Regions from separate parts of the Homo sapiens genome. Here region 2 is linked to region 1. The links come from fine-mapping of genetic effects on gene expression. Tissue or cell type: ileum. Region 1 holds a variant in brackets; the other region holds the start of a gene. All regions are shown on one strand. Distances are from middle to middle.

What was found. PIP is the estimated chance that this variant, and not a neighbour inherited with it, causes the effect.
Region 2: MEA1 starts here. The variant in region 1 is fine-mapped to the expression of MEA1 in ileum (GTEx, PIP 0.95).

Annotation. Positions count from the first base shown.
Region 1 is chr6:42,885,303-42,893,403 of GRCh38, reverse strand. RPL7L1 (ribosomal protein L7 like 1) reads right to left here. Exons shown (of 6, transcript NM_001366481.3): 5 at 7,321-7,430; 6 at 3,504-7,148. The coding sequence ends at 6,940. It overlaps PEX39 (peroxisomal biogenesis factor 39), which reads left to right and starts at 2,583. Exons shown (of 1, transcript NM_001008739.2): 1 at 2,583-3,139. The coding sequence starts at 2,616. The coding sequence ends at 2,921. RefSeq lists enhancers at 2,132-2,181, 2,242-3,091. The variant C/T (reference allele first, on the strand shown) is at 3,827.
Region 2 is chr6:43,009,548-43,017,635 of GRCh38, reverse strand. MEA1 (male-enhanced antigen 1) reads left to right here and starts at 3,690. Exons shown (of 4, transcript NM_014623.4): 1 at 3,690-3,850; 2 at 4,247-4,521; 3 at 4,608-4,710; 4 at 5,015-6,493. The coding sequence starts at 3,823. The coding sequence ends at 5,166. It overlaps PPP2R5D (protein phosphatase 2 regulatory subunit B'delta), which reads right to left. Exons shown (of 16, transcript NM_006245.4): 13 at 7,067-7,168; 14 at 6,900-6,972; 15 at 6,639-6,755; 16 at 5,294-6,487. The coding sequence ends at 6,350. It overlaps KLHDC3 (kelch domain containing 3), which reads right to left and starts at 3,387. Exons shown (of 11, transcript NM_057161.4): 1 at 3,288-3,387; 2 at 290-502; 3 at 1-117. The coding sequence starts at 443. RefSeq lists enhancers at 3,439-3,558, 5,522-6,022 and a silencer at 3,769-3,818.

The DNA.
Region 1 (8,101 bases):
TGTTGCCCAGGTTAGTCTTGAACTCCTGGGTTCAAGTGATCCTCCTGCCTTGACCACTCCCAAAGTGCTGGGATTATAGGCGTGAGCCACTGCACCGGGCCTACCCCAACTTTTTATTTTGACAAGTTTCAAACCCTCACGTGGATTCACTAATTCTTAGCAATTTTGCCACATTTGCTTTCTTTCTGTCATCATGACACTTCACCTCTACATACTTCAGAATGTATTTGCTATGAACAAGGTAATTCCCACACATAACCACAATTATCACACTTGATAAATTTAACATTGATATATCGTTGTCATCTAATATATGGATCATATTCAAATTTCCCCAAGGGTAAAATGTCCTTTAGAGCTGATCTCCCCTACACAATCTTGCATCTAATCCAGGATCACTCATTGAATTTATTTATTTATTTATATTTTATTTTATTTTTGGAGACAGAGTTTCACTCTGTCTCCCAGTCGGAAGTTGCTGGCAATCACAGCTCAGTGCAACCTCCACCTACCCGGGTTCAAGCGATTCTTCGACCACTGCCTCCAGAATAGCTGGGACTACAGGTGTCCACCACCATGTTCAGCAATTTTTTTTTTTTGTATTTTTTAGTAGAGATGGGGTTTTGCTATATTGCCCAGGCTGGTCTTGAATTCCTGAGTTCAAGCAATCCACCGACCTCAGCCTCCCAAAGTGCTGGGATTAAAGGCATGAGCCACTGTGTCTGGCCTGTATTTATTTTTTATGTCTCCTTTAATCTGGGGTAGTTCTTAGCTTTTTCTTAATGTTTTATAACAACGACATCTGTAAAGTGTCCAGACCAATCATTTTGCAGAATCTCTCTCACTTTGATCTCTATTTCCTCAAGACTAGGTGGTGAGTGAACATTTTTTGGGCATTTTGGGGAGGACTACTACAGAAATGTACTCCCCGTGTGTGTGTCCTTCCCAGTGCATCACATCAGAAGGCACACAAGGCCAGTTTGTCCTATTAAGCTTTTTTTTTTTTTTTTTTTTTGAGACTGAGTCTCACTCTGTTGCCCAGGCTGGAGTGCAGTGGTGTGATCTCATCTCACTGCAACCTCCCTGCCTCCTAGGTTCAAGCAATTCTTCTGCCTCAGCCTCCCAAGTAGGTGGGATTACAGGTGCGCACCACTATGCCTGGCTAATTTTTTTGTATTTTTAGTAGAGATGGGGTTTCGCCATGTTGGCCAGGCTGGTCTCAAACTCCTGATCTCAGGTGACCTGCCCACCTCAGCCTCCCAAAGTGCTGGGATTACAGGTGTGAGCCACCACGCCTGGCCATTAAGCTTTGATTCTTTGATTAAGGTGATGTTCACCAGATCAGTCTAGCTTTTGATACTTTTTTTTTTTTTTTTTGAGACAGAGTTTTGCTGTGTCACCGAGGGTAGAGTGCAGTGCTGCAATCTCAGCTCACTGCAACTTCTGCCTCCCAGGTTCAAGCGATTCTCCTGCCTCAGCCTCCTGAGTAGCTGGGATTACAGGTGCATGCCACCACACCCAGCTAATTTTTGTATTTTTAGTAGAGACGGGGGTTGCCCCATGTTGGTCAGGCTGGTCTCAAACTCCTGACCTTGAGATCCACCTGCCTCCACCTCCCAAAGTGCTGGGATTACAAGTGTGAGCCACCGTGCCCGGCCACTTTTGATAATTTAAAAACCTGACTTTCCGAGCAGTCAGAGCAGCTGTAGCACATCTGACCTGCTTTCACCTTCGATCTTCTCTGGGACCACCAAGAATTGAAGGATGGCAGGAAGTGTGAAGAAAGTGGTGAGGCTCTGGCTGGGTGCGGTGGCTCACACCTGTAATCCCCGCACTTTGGAAAGCTGAGGCGGGTGCATCACTTAAGGTCAGGAGTTCGAGACTAGCCTAGCCAACATGGTGAAACCCTGTTTCTACTAAAAATACAAAAATTAGCTGGGCTTGGTGGCATACACCAGCTACTAGGGAGGCTGAGGCACTAGGGACCCTGTGGATCGCTTGAACCAGGAGGCGGAGGTTGCAGTGCGCTGAGATCGCATCGCTGCACTCCGGCCTGGGCAACAGAGTGAGACTCCGTCTAAAACAACACAAAACAATAATAACAACTAAGAGAGTAGCGTGGCTTGGTGGCGGTGTCACTCCTGAGGCCTCTGGGAACAACTCTACAGTTATGCTTTGTCCCGTGCTGCGGAGCCTAGTATGGGGATTATCCCCCGCCATGCGTTGTATCTGAATCCTTGTACGCGCGCCCGGGGGTGTGCATGAAAATGGGCATGTGCGCGGTGCTTATGTATGTATGGGTCTTTTTGCCCGCAGCGGCGCGTCCGCAGGCTTGTTCTGTCCTGTGCTAGCCTTCAAGTTTTGGCACGTCCGTCCGTTTTTCTTCTTTGGCGCGTCCGTTGGGCACTCTGGGTTTGGCTAAATCGTGGACGCTTCTAAAGCGTTTCTGCAGGGAGCTGGTCAGAGTTGTCAAGTGCTCCCCCAGTTCTGGGCCGGCTTGGTACGGTCTACAGCCTCCCTTTCCTTTCCCCACCTCCCCCATGGTGGTTGCACCCATTCGGCCCGGAAGTGCTCGCTTCTCTGCATTACACGCCGGTCAGGATTCGCGACCCGACATGGAGCGTCCCCGCAGTCCCCAATGCTCGGCCCCGGCCTCTGCCTCAGCTTCGGTTACCCTGGCGCAGCTCCTGCAGCTGGTCCAGCAGGGCCAGGAACTCCCGGGCCTGGAGAAACGCCACATCGCGGCGATCCACGGCGAACCCACAGCGTCCCGGCTGCCGCGGAGGCCCAAGCCCTGGGAGGCCGCGGCTTTGGCTGAGTCCCTTCCCCCTCCGACCCTCAGGATAGGAACGGCCCCGGCGGAGCCTGGCTTGGTTGAGGCAGCGACTGCGCCTTCTTCATGGCATACAGTGGGCCCCTGAGGTTCCAGGTCCTTTGCGGCGGCGATCTGGAGGGCGTGGCTACAGGACCCGGGATGCCATTCAGTTACTCATCTTTTATGCTTTCGTCCTGACCTGTCTCAACTAGACTTGCTCCTGCAACCACCATGGGGGTTTTGCATTTACATTTGTGGACCATGTTACAGTTAAGAAAAATCCTGTTTCAGTCCTTATATGTAATAAAATGTTTTATGATGTAACTTGGCCCCAGAATGATTTTGAAGATACATTAAAGGAAAGCCCAAAGCATTTAAAAAAGCCAACCAAGAAAGACTAAAATCTTGGCTCTTGGAATCAGCTGGATCAGGCAAGGGGCTAGAGAATTAGAGCATTAGAAAGGCTCCCACAGCCACCCTGAAATCAGTCCTTTTATGTTAAGCAGGCCACCTGGCTCAGTGCCTACATACTCAACACTAGATTTTACTTTCTCTACAAAAGCTAGAATGTACCTGGTACGTGCTGACATGACCCTAACCCACAGACGATGTAACAGGTCTACCTTTTCTCAGAAAGGATTGTCTCACAACTTGTTCAACGAATTAGTTATGTCATGGTACATACATATAAGTGCGCAATTTTTGTAACATCTTTTATTTGTATACAATTATAAATTACAAACTTGTTTTATTAGGTTTTTTAAAATTTATTTTTCGTCAACTTAGTCCCTTTTATTTACCAGCAGTTTGCTCTGACAGAATAAATTACAAACTATTGTTTTGTTTAATCCCTTTAACCATCATGTCAGGCACACAGGTTGGAGAATATTAGCTCCCATTTTATGGACAGAGTGGAAACACTGTACCCATATTTAGTGTAAGACAGAGCTGGGATATAAGCCTTGGGCTTCCATAGTCACAACTGCTTTTTTGCATAACTTTGTAATACAT[C/T]ATTTTAAAGTAATCTGATTTCACAATGTTTTACAGTATAGGAGTAACATCTATAGCATCTCTTCTTGGCAGGTTACCTCTGGAGAGAACCAATCTAATTACCTCATACGCTGGCACTTTTTTTTTTTTTTTTTTTGAGACAGAGTTTTGCTTTTGTTGCCCAAGGTGGAGTGCAATGGTGTGATCTCGGCTCACTGCAACCTCTGCCTCCCTGGGTTCAAGCAATTCTCTTGCCTCAGCCTCCCAAGTAGCTGGGATTACAGGCATGCACCACCACATCCGGCTAATTTTGTATTTTCAGTAGGGACAGAATTTCTCCATGTTGGTCAGGCTGGTCTCGAACTCCTGACCTCAAGTGATCTGCCTGCCTCAGCCTCCTGAAGTGTTGAGATTACAGGTGTGAGCCACCGTGCCCAGCCTAAGCTGGCATGTTTTAAGGCAGTTACATCTCTAACTTGATTTACCAGCTATGCTTGAGGGTCCAAGGAGCCAAAATTGCAGCCAAACTGATCTTAAAGGACCAGGGAATAGAATGGTCAAGCATGTTTCCAAGTTTAACCTAGGCCTGGCACATCCTTGCCAATTGCTCAGATGGCAAGTGAGGGGCAACTAAGTGAAGAGAATAGCAGGAAGACCCACTTGGGGTGGACACTGATGAAAAACACAAGCAGTATCAGACTCACTGTTTTCAGGATTAAAATCCCCAGATGCCCTGTTATTGGTCTATGTCACTACCAGTAGGACAAAAGGCAATGCTTCTGAAGACTAGAATATGCAAGGAAAAAATTAAGGTGCCTGCCTGCCTGGGGCCTAACGAGCCAAACAGTGCTAATTTCATCCATGCCAAACAAAATTGTTCATTCCTTGCTGATTTGGGTTTTAAGGAACCATGCTGATCATCAGAGAAACCAGGCAATTCTATTCTGAAGCCCAGGGGAAGAAATGGTGGGGATTTCTGAGTTACAGATGGTGCAGGGGTTAACACTATCTGCCACTATGAAGGGAAAAATCTATCTTGGTAAACTTTGGTCTTCCATAGGACATGGAACCAGAGTAGCAAGATCAGGGCCTGCGTGACCGATCCTGATTGAGCAGGACTTCCTCACATAAGGTACACAAGAGCTGGGCGCAGTTGCTCATGCCTGTAATCCCAGCACTTTGGGAGGCCCAGGCTTGTGGATCACTTGAGGTCAGGAGTTTGAGACTAGCCTGGCCTACATGGTGAAACTCTGTCTCCATCTCTACTAAAAATACAAGAATTAGCTGGGTGTGGTGGTACATGCATGTAATCCCAGCTGATCAAGGGGCTGAGGCAGAATCACTTGAACCCAGGAGGTGGAGGCTGCAATGAGCTGAGATCATGCCACTGCGCTCCAGCCTGGGCAACAGGGTGAGACTGTCTCAAAGAGAAAAACAAAACCCATAAGATGCACAGGTATCTGAGAAGGGTCTAAACACCCTAGAACTGCAAGCAAAATTTTGAGTGTATACATGTTTTCCTGGCGAAGGGGTCCTCATTCTCAAATCCTGAGCTTTTAGGAAAAAGTACTAAGCCAGTTTCAGGTTACGATACAAAAGCCACCAGATACACTTAGAGCCAGTCAAGTTTGAGAATTCTCAAAGCCATCACTGAAAAGTTGGAACACATACTCACAGCAGAGACAAGTGAACATTTATTTTTATGCCTTTCTTCCTATGTGTATTTCAAGTCTTTTTCAAAACAAGGCCCCAGGACTCTCCAGATTCAATTATGTCCTTGGGCTTGGTCGACTGCTGCAGGAGTCTCAGGGAGCCTTCTACAAATGCTAGAGTGACTCATTTACCAACATTAAACCCTAGGATACATGCAACAAAGCAGGACTCCTTCCTCCATGGAATGTGCCGATTTCAGATGACACAGCACCCAATGCAGAAAACACTGGAATTTTTCCTTGGAACTCGACTGTGATGAGAGGTGCTTGACATGAACATATGCTACTGTCTTTTCTTTTTTTTTGAGACAGAGTTTCGCTTGTTGCCCAGGCTGGAGTGCAATGGCGTGATCTCAGCTCACTGCAACTTCCACCTCCCAGGTTCAAGCGATTCTCCTGCCTCAGCCTCCTGAGTAGCTGGGATTACAGGCACGTGCCACCATGCCCGGCTAATTTTTGTATTTTTAGTAGAGATGGCATTTCTCCATGTTGGTCAGGCTGGTCTCGAACTCCCAACCTCAGGTGATCTGCCCACCTCAGCCTCCCTAAGTGTTGGGATTACAGGCATGAGCCACCACGACCGGCCAGCTACTGTCTTTTCTTTGACCCTTTCCAGTTTCTGAAGATAAAGCAGGAAATAATCTTCTCTGAAGATACTTGATAAAAATTTCCAAAACAAAACACATGCTTCCACTTCACTGATAAAAAATTTACCGCAGTTTGGCACCTAAGAGTATGACAACAGCAATAAAAAGTAATTTCAAAGAGTTAAGATTTCTTCAGCAAAATAGATGATTCACATCTTCAAGTCCTTTTTGAAATCAGTTATTAATATTATTCTTTCCTCATTTCCATCTGAATGACTGCAGCAATAGTTTTTTTTTTTTTTTTTCCGAGATGGAGTCTCGCTCTGTCGCCCAGCTGGAGTGCACTGGTGCAATCTTGGCTCACTGCAATCTCTGCCTCCTGGGTTCAAGCGATTTTCCTGCCTTAGCCTCTCGAGTAGCTGGGACTACAGGCACGCGCCACCACACCCAGCTCATTTTTGTATTTTTAGTAGAGACAGGGTTTCACCATGTTGGCCAGGATGGTCTCAATCTCCTGACCTCATGGTCTGCCCGCCTTGGCCTCCCAAAGTGCTGGGATTACAGGCGTGAGCCACCGCGCCCGGCCAGCAATACAGTTTTTAGTTACTCGACATCTTTAAGCCTATAACTCTTAGGCTATGCATAGCCCCATGTCCTAATCAGGCATTCACTGATCCCAGCAGGTCTCCATCTATTTGTACCAGCCTCCTCTATTCCTCCCAATCTCAAGGTTACTCTTAAATACTAGTAAATGCAAAAAGAACTTGTAAAGTGGCAAGGCATGGCCTATCAAAAGTCAGCCCAAGGGCAGTTTTCAGCCCTGCCTCACCTGGGTCTAGTTCAGCTGACGGATGAGCTGATTGATGCGTTCACCCCGATAGCCAGGTGTGCCCATCTCCTTGAGGAAGCCCACTCTATTTTTGGTAGCATGACGGGCCACTGAGAGGTGGAAAGGGCACAAGAACCATGAGATCTCCTGGAAATGCTTCCCTGGGAAGGCAATTTCATGAATGAGGTCTTCCAAGCAAATGACGCCAAACTTCCCTAAGAAACACAAAAGCACAGATTCCTTTATTTAACATGTATCCAGCATATACTAAGCTGGCCACTCTGGCAGACTCTTGGGGCCCCAAGAAGAATACAACCTGAATCTCACATCAAAGCTTCAAAGACCCTGGCTTTCTGCCCCAGCTGATCCCTAAGCTGTAGCACTCACCCAGGTGCTCCTCAATCACTGTATTGTCTGTCAGAGGGATGGTCTTATTCTTGACCTTGGCTTGTCCACGTTTCAAAATGAGTTCTCGGACAGACTTCAGATTTGGAAATCTATGTAGGAAAATAAAGCACGGTTTTCACCAGCACCTGGCACACTACATACCAGTCCTGCAGCCTGGCTGAGAGGTTGGAGAGGTTCTCCCACACACTCACTTCTCCCAACGAGCAAGTGTTCTGCAATCACATTCCAGCTGAAATGCTTGGAAATACTCCTGATAAAGAACTGAAGTGACCCCACTTACATAATTAGAAATTTAAATTTATGGATGTAAATGTTCACCAGGGAAAATATTGCCAACAAAAACAAAACAGAAACCATGTCCTAGCTTACCTTAGGGGCTACGACTCTGGCCTTAGGTGACCCTCTACTCAAGATGGTGCAAGAGTTGGAAATAAAATCCAAGTTTTTGTTGGGTTTCAATGTTTGAGGAATACTACTCTTTTTTTTTTTTTGAGACGGAGTCTTGCTCAGTCTCCCAGGCTGGAGTGCAGTGGCACGATCTCGACTCACTGCAAGCTCCGCCTCCCAGGTTCATGCCATTCTCCTGCCTCAGCCTCCCAAGTAGCTGGGACTACAGGTGCCAGGCTAATTTTTTTTGTATTTTTAGTAGAGACGGGGTTTCACCATGTTAGCCAGGATGGTCTCGATCTCCCGACCTCGTGATCCACCGTGTCTGGCCTTTTTTTTTTTTTTTGAGACAGAGTGGATTGCAGTGGCACAA
Region 2 (8,088 bases), 120 kb before region 1:
GGAGGACTGTGTCGTCGATGAGGACGGTTGAGTGTCCATAGCGCATGTAGGGTACCACAGGAGCTTGCCCACGGATGGCAGACTTCACCGGGGGCAGCTTTGTCCAACGCAAGGACACTGTGGGCACAGCTCTGCTCAGCCCTGGGAACCTCCCTCCAGGCTGTCCACTTTTCCCAAACCAGATGTTTGTCCCCAATCCCCTTGGTCCCAGAGACCACAGCCAAACCTCATCAGCAGCCCGTTCCCACCCTGATGTGGGGACCCAGGGACAGCCCCAGCATTGGCTTACCTGCATTGAAAATGTGCACATCTATCTGACGCAGTGTCTCATAGTCTTCACCAGAGCAGTAACCCCCGAAGGAGTATACCCGATGCCCGACAGCCACTGCAGCATGGTTCACCCTGCGGGGCCCGCCCTCCAGGTGCACTGTCCACCGTAACATCCCCTGGGCCACTGGTTACAGCAACATGCCCCCCCGGCACGGCCTGCTGCCTCTGCTATCTGCACACAAATTGGGGCCACGGGATCCTCAGGCGAGGCTTCTGCCCAGCTCACTGTGACTCTGCCCAGAACCAGCCTTTGCCTCCAAGTGTCACCCTGGGGGCCCTCCCACACTACCCCTCCACAGGGGCACTAGTCTCAGCTCAGGTGGCTGGCCCTGCCCCAAGGGAGCTGCCGAGGTCAGGGAGCAGCCTGGGCCCAGTGTTCTCCAACAGTGAAGGGTGGGGCCACCCCCACCTGATTGCCAGCTCAGAATCTGCATATCATGGTCACAACCTACTCGTGGAGGCTCCACTCTGTCCCTGGCTTGGCACAAACTTGAAGCCCCCTTCCCAAACGGTATATTCTCTTGTCTCTGCTCTGCTTACTGCCACCTCTCTAAGAATCTGTGTTCTTTGAGGTGGGGAAAGGGATCTCAAAATACTCACAGCTATTAATAGCCCAGCCAGCCTCAAACAGTCCATTGAAAGCTGGCATGAGTGCCTCAAAGCAGAAAAGCTTTCAGGCTTTTAGAGTGGAACAATCCCCCTACCCAAGATAGGGCGGGACTGATCCAGGACAGGGACCTCCATGTTACCGCGGTTGGTTAGCCCCTCACAGGGAGCTCCTGTCAAGCTGAGTTGTTGTCATTGGGGTCACCCAGGGCCCCCCACAGGCACAAGGAGTTCCTTTGACAGCTGTGCCTGGTATGCTGCCAGGACTTAAGCCAGAAAGGTATGTGTATGCTTAGGCTTGGGGGATGGTGATAGAGGGAGGGGTTTTCTCCTCCTGCCACTTCCCCATCCCTGCTACTGTGGTAGAGAACAAGCCATTTCCAGTAGAAAAGAGAGAACAAGCTCTTCCACAACTTGGGTTCCTGAAAGGCGGATAGAGGTGGGAGTGTGCAATGCAAAGGGGAAGGGGCTGGGCACAGTGGCTCACACCTGTAATCCCAGCACCCTGAGAGGCCGAGGCAGGTGGATCACGAGATCAAGAGACGGAGACCATCCTGGCCAACATGGTGAAACCCGTCTCTACTAAAAATACAAAAATTAGCTGGGCACGGTGGCGCGCACCTGTAGTCCCAGCTACTCAGGAGGCTGAGGCAGGAGAATTGCTTGCACTCGGGTGGCGGAGGTTGGAGTGAGCCGAGATCACACCACTGCACTCCAGTCTGGCGACAGAGCGAGACTCTGTCTCAAAACAAAAAAAAAGGGGAAGGGAGGCAAAAAATGCCCTTGGGCAGGACAAGAGAAAGATCCAGCATGAGAAGTCATGGTCTTTTTTTTTTTTTTTTTTTTTAGATGAAGTCTCGCTCTTGCCCCCAGGCTGGAGCGCAATGGTGCAATCTCAGCTCACTGCAAACTCTGCCTCCCTCCCGGGTTCAAGCGATTCTCCTGCCTCAGCCTCCCAAGTAGCTGGGATTACAGGCGCCTGCCACCATGCCCAGCTAATTTTTGTATTTTTAGTAGAGATGGGGTCTCACTATGTTGGCCAGGCTGGTCTCAAACTCCTGACCTCAGGTGATCCACCGTCCTCGGTCTCCTGAAGTGCTGGGATTACAGGCGTGAGCCACCATGCCCAGCTGGTCATGGTCTCTTAAACACAACCTGTCAACCTAGTGGCACGTACACCTGGGTACATCTGAGGTTTTTTCAGGCAAATCCTTGCAACTGACAATGCTTTTGCTGGCAAGCATCTCCTGAGTTTGGGTGTATCATCATCTGCTCCCTGTTTAAGAAGCCCTGGCAGAGGAAAGGGCCAGGCAAAACCTCAGGCACTAAAACAGCTCAAATAAGGGAGGCCCCTTGCAGGAAAGAGACATGGCTTTCAGCTGGCTTGCTAGTCCCACCCACCCAACCTCCCCCAACTCCACACCCTAAGCTTTAAATAGCCATGGGACCCATCCTGAAATAGCCCCAGCAGGAAGCTACTCTCACTTCATTACTCCCGCTCTCCAAAATATCTTGGGTCTGGGCTTGTGGAGACTGTTAGGAGGTCGATGGGCTTAAGAATGGAAGTCTTCCATCCTCCCTTATATTCTCTATTCTTCCCTTCAGATATGTCAAGGTAAAGTAAAATATGCACAGGAGAGGAGATAAGCAATTCCAGCCAAAGGTGGAGAAAAAAAATTTTAGTTTCTCTGCCATATAAACAACTCAAATTCAAGGAGAACAAGCCCCCAGGCGCTCAGGGGCTCCTCTTATCCCTGGGTCTCCCCAGTCCTCCATCACCACCAAGCATTTTCAAACTTCTTCTATTCCCTTAATGTATCTACCCGCCTGGTCTCTTGCATTTTTTATTCCCCATTTCTCGCCCTTCTTGATCTCGTGAGAGCTTTGCAGTTTTCTCATTTTTCCTTCTCCTACCATTCCAAGCTCCACCCAACAGCCCTCCATTTTCCCACCTCCACTAAGGAAAGAAAAATTAGCATGCACTGACCACGATACCCCTCTCTGCATATGACTCTATCCCTGTCTTCTTCCAGACATTCCGGCCTCCCCTAGCCCACCACGCCAGACACCCCTCCCCTTCCATTATGCTCAGCTTCCCTGTTTTCATGGCCCAGTCTTCCTTCCCATTTCCTTCATTGCTTCCTCCAGACACCAGGTCTCTCCTACCCATCTCCTCGCCATCCTCCCCTAGCCCTGCTTTCCCCATTAACACTCTCCTTTCCCATCATCCCCCTAGCTCCCTCCCCACCCCCACCTCATCACTCTCAGGCCCCTCCCCCGCCACTCCAGCTCCAGACAGCACGTCCTAAGCCCCCTAATTCTCCCTTGCCCTTCTACCCATCCCAGGCTACCTGCCAGGCCGAGCCGGGGCGGGGCCGCGGGTCCTCGAGCTGCCTGCAGCCTAGAACCCGTTGCGCGCCAACCGACGCCTTAGTCCCCAACGAGATAAACACAGCCAAGCTCGGTTCTTCCGGCGGGCAGCTGTGCGCGCACGTGCAGTCGTAGCTAAGTGCCGGAGGCATTTCGGGACTTGTAGTCCATACGTTTCCTGAGGGACGAGAGGGCTGAGGAGTGGGCAGGGGCGTAGGAGAGATTCTGCGCATGTGCAAATATGTGTCGAGACCGAGGAGGCCACTGGGTAATGCAGTCCTTTGTTTTTTGGGCTGGGAATGACGGAGGCGGGGCAAGGGGCGGACTCCTCGTCCTCGCCAGCGTCAATCATGGATATGGGGCGGGGCTGGAGGACTAGGCACCTCTGCACGTCCTGCCCCGCCGGAAGTGGAGGCCGCGGGCTCTGAGCGGGTGAGGCGCGCGGGAACACCGGCGCCGGGATTCGGATGGGGGCGGGTGGGGGACGCTGCAGCTGGGGCCATTTGAGGGGAGCCCATGGGGCCTGAAAGGCATCTGTCAGGCGGTACAGAGGGGGTCCTCTAGGAGAGGGGAGAAGGGGGCGGGTACGCCGACCTGTTTAGGGGAGTCTGATGACCCAGAGTTCCCAAGTCGCGGGGGAGGCGTGGCGCGGGGAGCCGGGGTTCTGGAAGGGGTGTCTTTTAGGAGGTGGCAGGGCCTCCGGTTGGGCGTTTAACTAGGAAGTGGCGGAGCAAGTTGGTGGGGCCTGGTTCAAGATAAGAACCCCGACTTAGGAGGGGGAGGAACGAGAGGCTGGAATTGGGGCGGAGGGGTGGAGGATGCAGGAGCCTCGGGGAGGAGCTGGTTTTTTGCACGCAGGAGACTACAAGGAGATGATGAGAGGATGAAGATGGGCCTGGTTTCATCCGATCCCTGTCCTACCGCCTCCCTGTTCTTGCAGCCCCTGCCCGGATGGCAACAGTAGTTCTAGGAGGAGACACCATGGGCCCTGAGCGTATCTTCCCCAATCAGACTGAGGAACTGGGACATCAGGGCCCTTCAGAAGGCACTGGGGATTGGAGCAGTGAGGAGCCTGAGGAAGAGCAGGAGGAAACGGGGTCGGGCCCAGCTGGCTACTCCTACCAGCCCCTGAACCAAGATCCTGAACAAGAGGAGGTGGAACTGGCACCAGTGGGGGATGGAGATGTAGTTGCTGACATCCAGGATCGAATCCAGGTAGGGTGGAGGAGGGATGGTTCCTGAACAGGTGAAGCTGGGCTCCCTGAAAGCCTAGACCCAAACGGTCTTCTGTGGCTCTGCAGGCCCTGGGGCTTCATTTGCCAGACCCACCATTAGAGAGTGAAGATGAAGATGAGGAGGGAGCTACAGCGTTGAACAACCACAGCTCTATTCCCATGGACCCAGGTAAAAGATCATTCTTTCATTCTGGAATAATTACTAAGGAAATGAACTGGCATGAGTCAGTAGAAGGAAGTTTCAGAGGAAGACCCTATCCTAAAAAGATAGTTTGTAAACTAAGATTTTGTAGACTTCAGAGTCCAAGTGAAATGCTCTTTTGCTAGCTTTGGGGATGGGCAGGCTTGCCTTAAAGTAACAAGGTGGATTTGGTGACCCTAGCAGCCCAAGGGCTCTGGGTTGATTCGGGGATTGGGGAGGGGAGCTGGTCCCATTATTTCTATGCCTGAATGGCCTCTGGCTCTGATTTCAGAACATGTAGAGCTGGTGAAAAGGACAATGGCTGGAGTAAGCCTGCCTGCGCCAGGGGTTCCTGCCTGGGCTCGGGAGATATCGGATGCCCAGTGGGAAGATGTGGTACAGAAAGCCCTCCAAGCCCGGCAGGCATCCCCTGCCTGGAAGTGACCACAGTGAGAGCTGCCTTATATTCCTACATTCCAGGCCAGAACCAGCACAGGACTGAACACATCCCTGGTTGTAATGTCCATTTCCATCTTCCCCGTCTCCCTTTCCACATCAAGGCACATCAGACTTCTCAGAGACCCACTTTATTCAGTTCTGTACATATGGGGACATCGGTCCAAGCCCAACCCACCTTAGCATGTATCACTCTGTGGAGAATAAAGCACCCTATGTACACAGCCAAAAGCCGCACTGCCTGCGCCCCTGGAACCTGGGTCCGGCCTTCCTCAGCCCCTGGCCCCTCCAAGGTACCTATAAGGGACAAGAGAAGGCCTGCCCAGCATAGCACAAACAAGGAAATAAATAGGTGTTGGCAGGAGCCATGCTTGGGGCACCGCTCCCTGCTTCCTTCTTTCTAGTTTTGGGAACCAACAGCACAGAAAAGCAGTCAGCCCCAGGGTGGTCCCTTCCATGTCTGTGACCCCAGGGCTGCTGCTCACCAAAGACAGGGCACGGGGTAGGGTGTTTATTCATCCCTCCCCGGCCCCACTTGGTCCATCTGGGCCCTATATTCATCAGTTATTGTCCACAGCCTATACTTTTCTCCTTTTGACCTCCCTTGGTCAGGCATGGGGTAAGAAGAAATAATACAACCCTATCTGCCAGCACACGGCTGGGACTGGGGGGCCTATTTGTGCTGCAGGGGGGTTGGCTTCCCTTCAGCTACTCTGGGACCAATGGGGCTTGACATAACTTTGGTGAGAATAATCTCCTGCTGTTCCCTACATGCCTCTGCAGGGGAGAGAGAGGAGGGGAGATACCTGGCGTTCAAATGAGGATGAAGGGAAGAATAGAGGAGCGTATGTATTCCTGTGTGTACTTCTCAGAGCAGCCTCAGGTAGCTGTGGGTGAGGAGCAGGTAGGGGACAGGCATCCCCAGGTTGTCTGAGCACTAAGCATCTTAGTGCTCAGCCTGTACTAGCCACAGGGAGGCATGAACACCTTTTGGGGAGAAGAGGGACCATTCTGTGGGTGTCCCTGCTTCAAGTGCCCACATCCCCCTCCCTTGAGTAGCTAGAGAGGCGCTGCCTTCCCCCAAGACAGCCAGTAGGGAGCAGAGTATGGAGGGCCAGGGCAGTGTCCCAGGGCTGTGTGGGCTGTGGCCCTGTGGTAGGAACGTGAGGGGTCAGAGAGCCTCCTGGCTGGCAGTTAGGAACTCTTCCGCCCGCTTGTGCGCCTCCAGTGCCTTGATGGTGTACACGTCCTGGGGCAGCTCCGACTTCCTCCGCAGCAGCACTTTCTCCTTCTTGATGTCTTTTAGCATCTGTGTGTGAATAGGGACAAGGTGAGGAATGGTGACCAATTCCCAGTGAATTCTATTGTTCCGTCCCCTTATTCTTTGGCTCTGCTGTTTCTGTCTCCTCTCCCTTCCAGAGCTATTATTTCTGCTCCATCCCCCTACATTGCCCTCCCACCTGAACAGCCTCAGTCTCCACAGTCCTCTTCAGAAGCTGGATGTCCTCAGCTGTGGGGGTCTCTGTCTCCATCGAGTACACAGGGGGCAGTGGTGGAGGGGCTCGGAACATGGGATACTGAGTGAGGAGACATGGACAAGCGTTAAGAGCCACTTCAGAGGCTTGGGGGCCTGTGTGCCCCATATTCCTCCCCCAACAAACTCTCCCCCAGCTCAAGATGGGCTGGCCCCTCAGTTCACAACAGTGGCAGGAAAACCTCACCTGGGGATTAAGCCGGGCCAGCTCCTCGATTTTTTGCCACATCTCTTCCCTTTCCTTCATTCGGAACCGGCCCCTGAGGAGCAAAAGTAGGATTGGGGTTGGGCTTGAGAGAAACACAGTGAGCTGGTGGTAGAAGATGAAAGTCTCCCGGGGAGAGAGATACTCACTTCTGCTTCTCTGCCTTGTATTGTTGTGTGCAGTCATCAAACAGCTTCTGATTCATTTCCATAAACAACTTCAGGGCATTATAGATCAGTCCATGGATTGTCCTGCCACCAAGAAGAAAGATGAGGTGTAGGAGGCCAGAGCCTGCCCTTAGCGTGAGGAACCCAATTTGTTCTCTCACAGGGGTATCTCTGCTAAGAGCTTTGTCATTTACTACTTCCAGTTCACAAACCTCTGTGCAGTATCAGAAGAGAGCTCTGGCCAAATCACCTGGTTTGAGACTGGCATTTCATGGTTTTCACAAATATCGGTCCACCTGTCCATCCTTCCCTCACCCCATGCTCCAAGGCCTGCCTACCTCCCATCCTTTCCCACTCTAACCCACACTAATGGCCTCCCAGCAGCATGATGGGCATGTAGATGCAGCATGACAGACTGCATCTACACCACAGTGTGCTTGCTTTTAGCAGAAAAGTCTTTTCAAAACCCTGAGTTTTTTTTTTAAGACGGAGTCTCACTCTGTTGCCCAGGCTGGAGTGCAGTGGCACGATCTCGGCTCACTGCAACCGTCACCTCCCAGGTTCAAGTGATTCTCCTGCCTCAGCCTCCCAAGTAGCTGGGACTACAGGCATCCACCACTACACCCAGCTAATTTTTGTATTTTTAGTAGAGATGGGGGTTTCACTATGTTGGGCAGGCTGGTCTCAAACTCCTGACCTCGTGATCCACCCGCCTTGCCAGCCTCCCAAAGTGCTAGGATTACAGGCGTGAGACACCGTGCCCGGCCTAAAACCCTGGGATTCTTTACACATACTCTCAAAGAAGGTCACATCAGCTTCTCACTGCATAGAATTACATCTCCAAAGCTGTGATAGGACCTGTAGAATAGCTGAACCCAAGGAGCGGTGTAACAGGCCGCTGCCCTGCTGTTTGGTATCACAGAGATCTTGCACACAGGCATCTTTTCGCTCCAGTCAGCCCCTCAAGGTCCTATCAACATGCAGGGGACATCAGCCCCACTTGC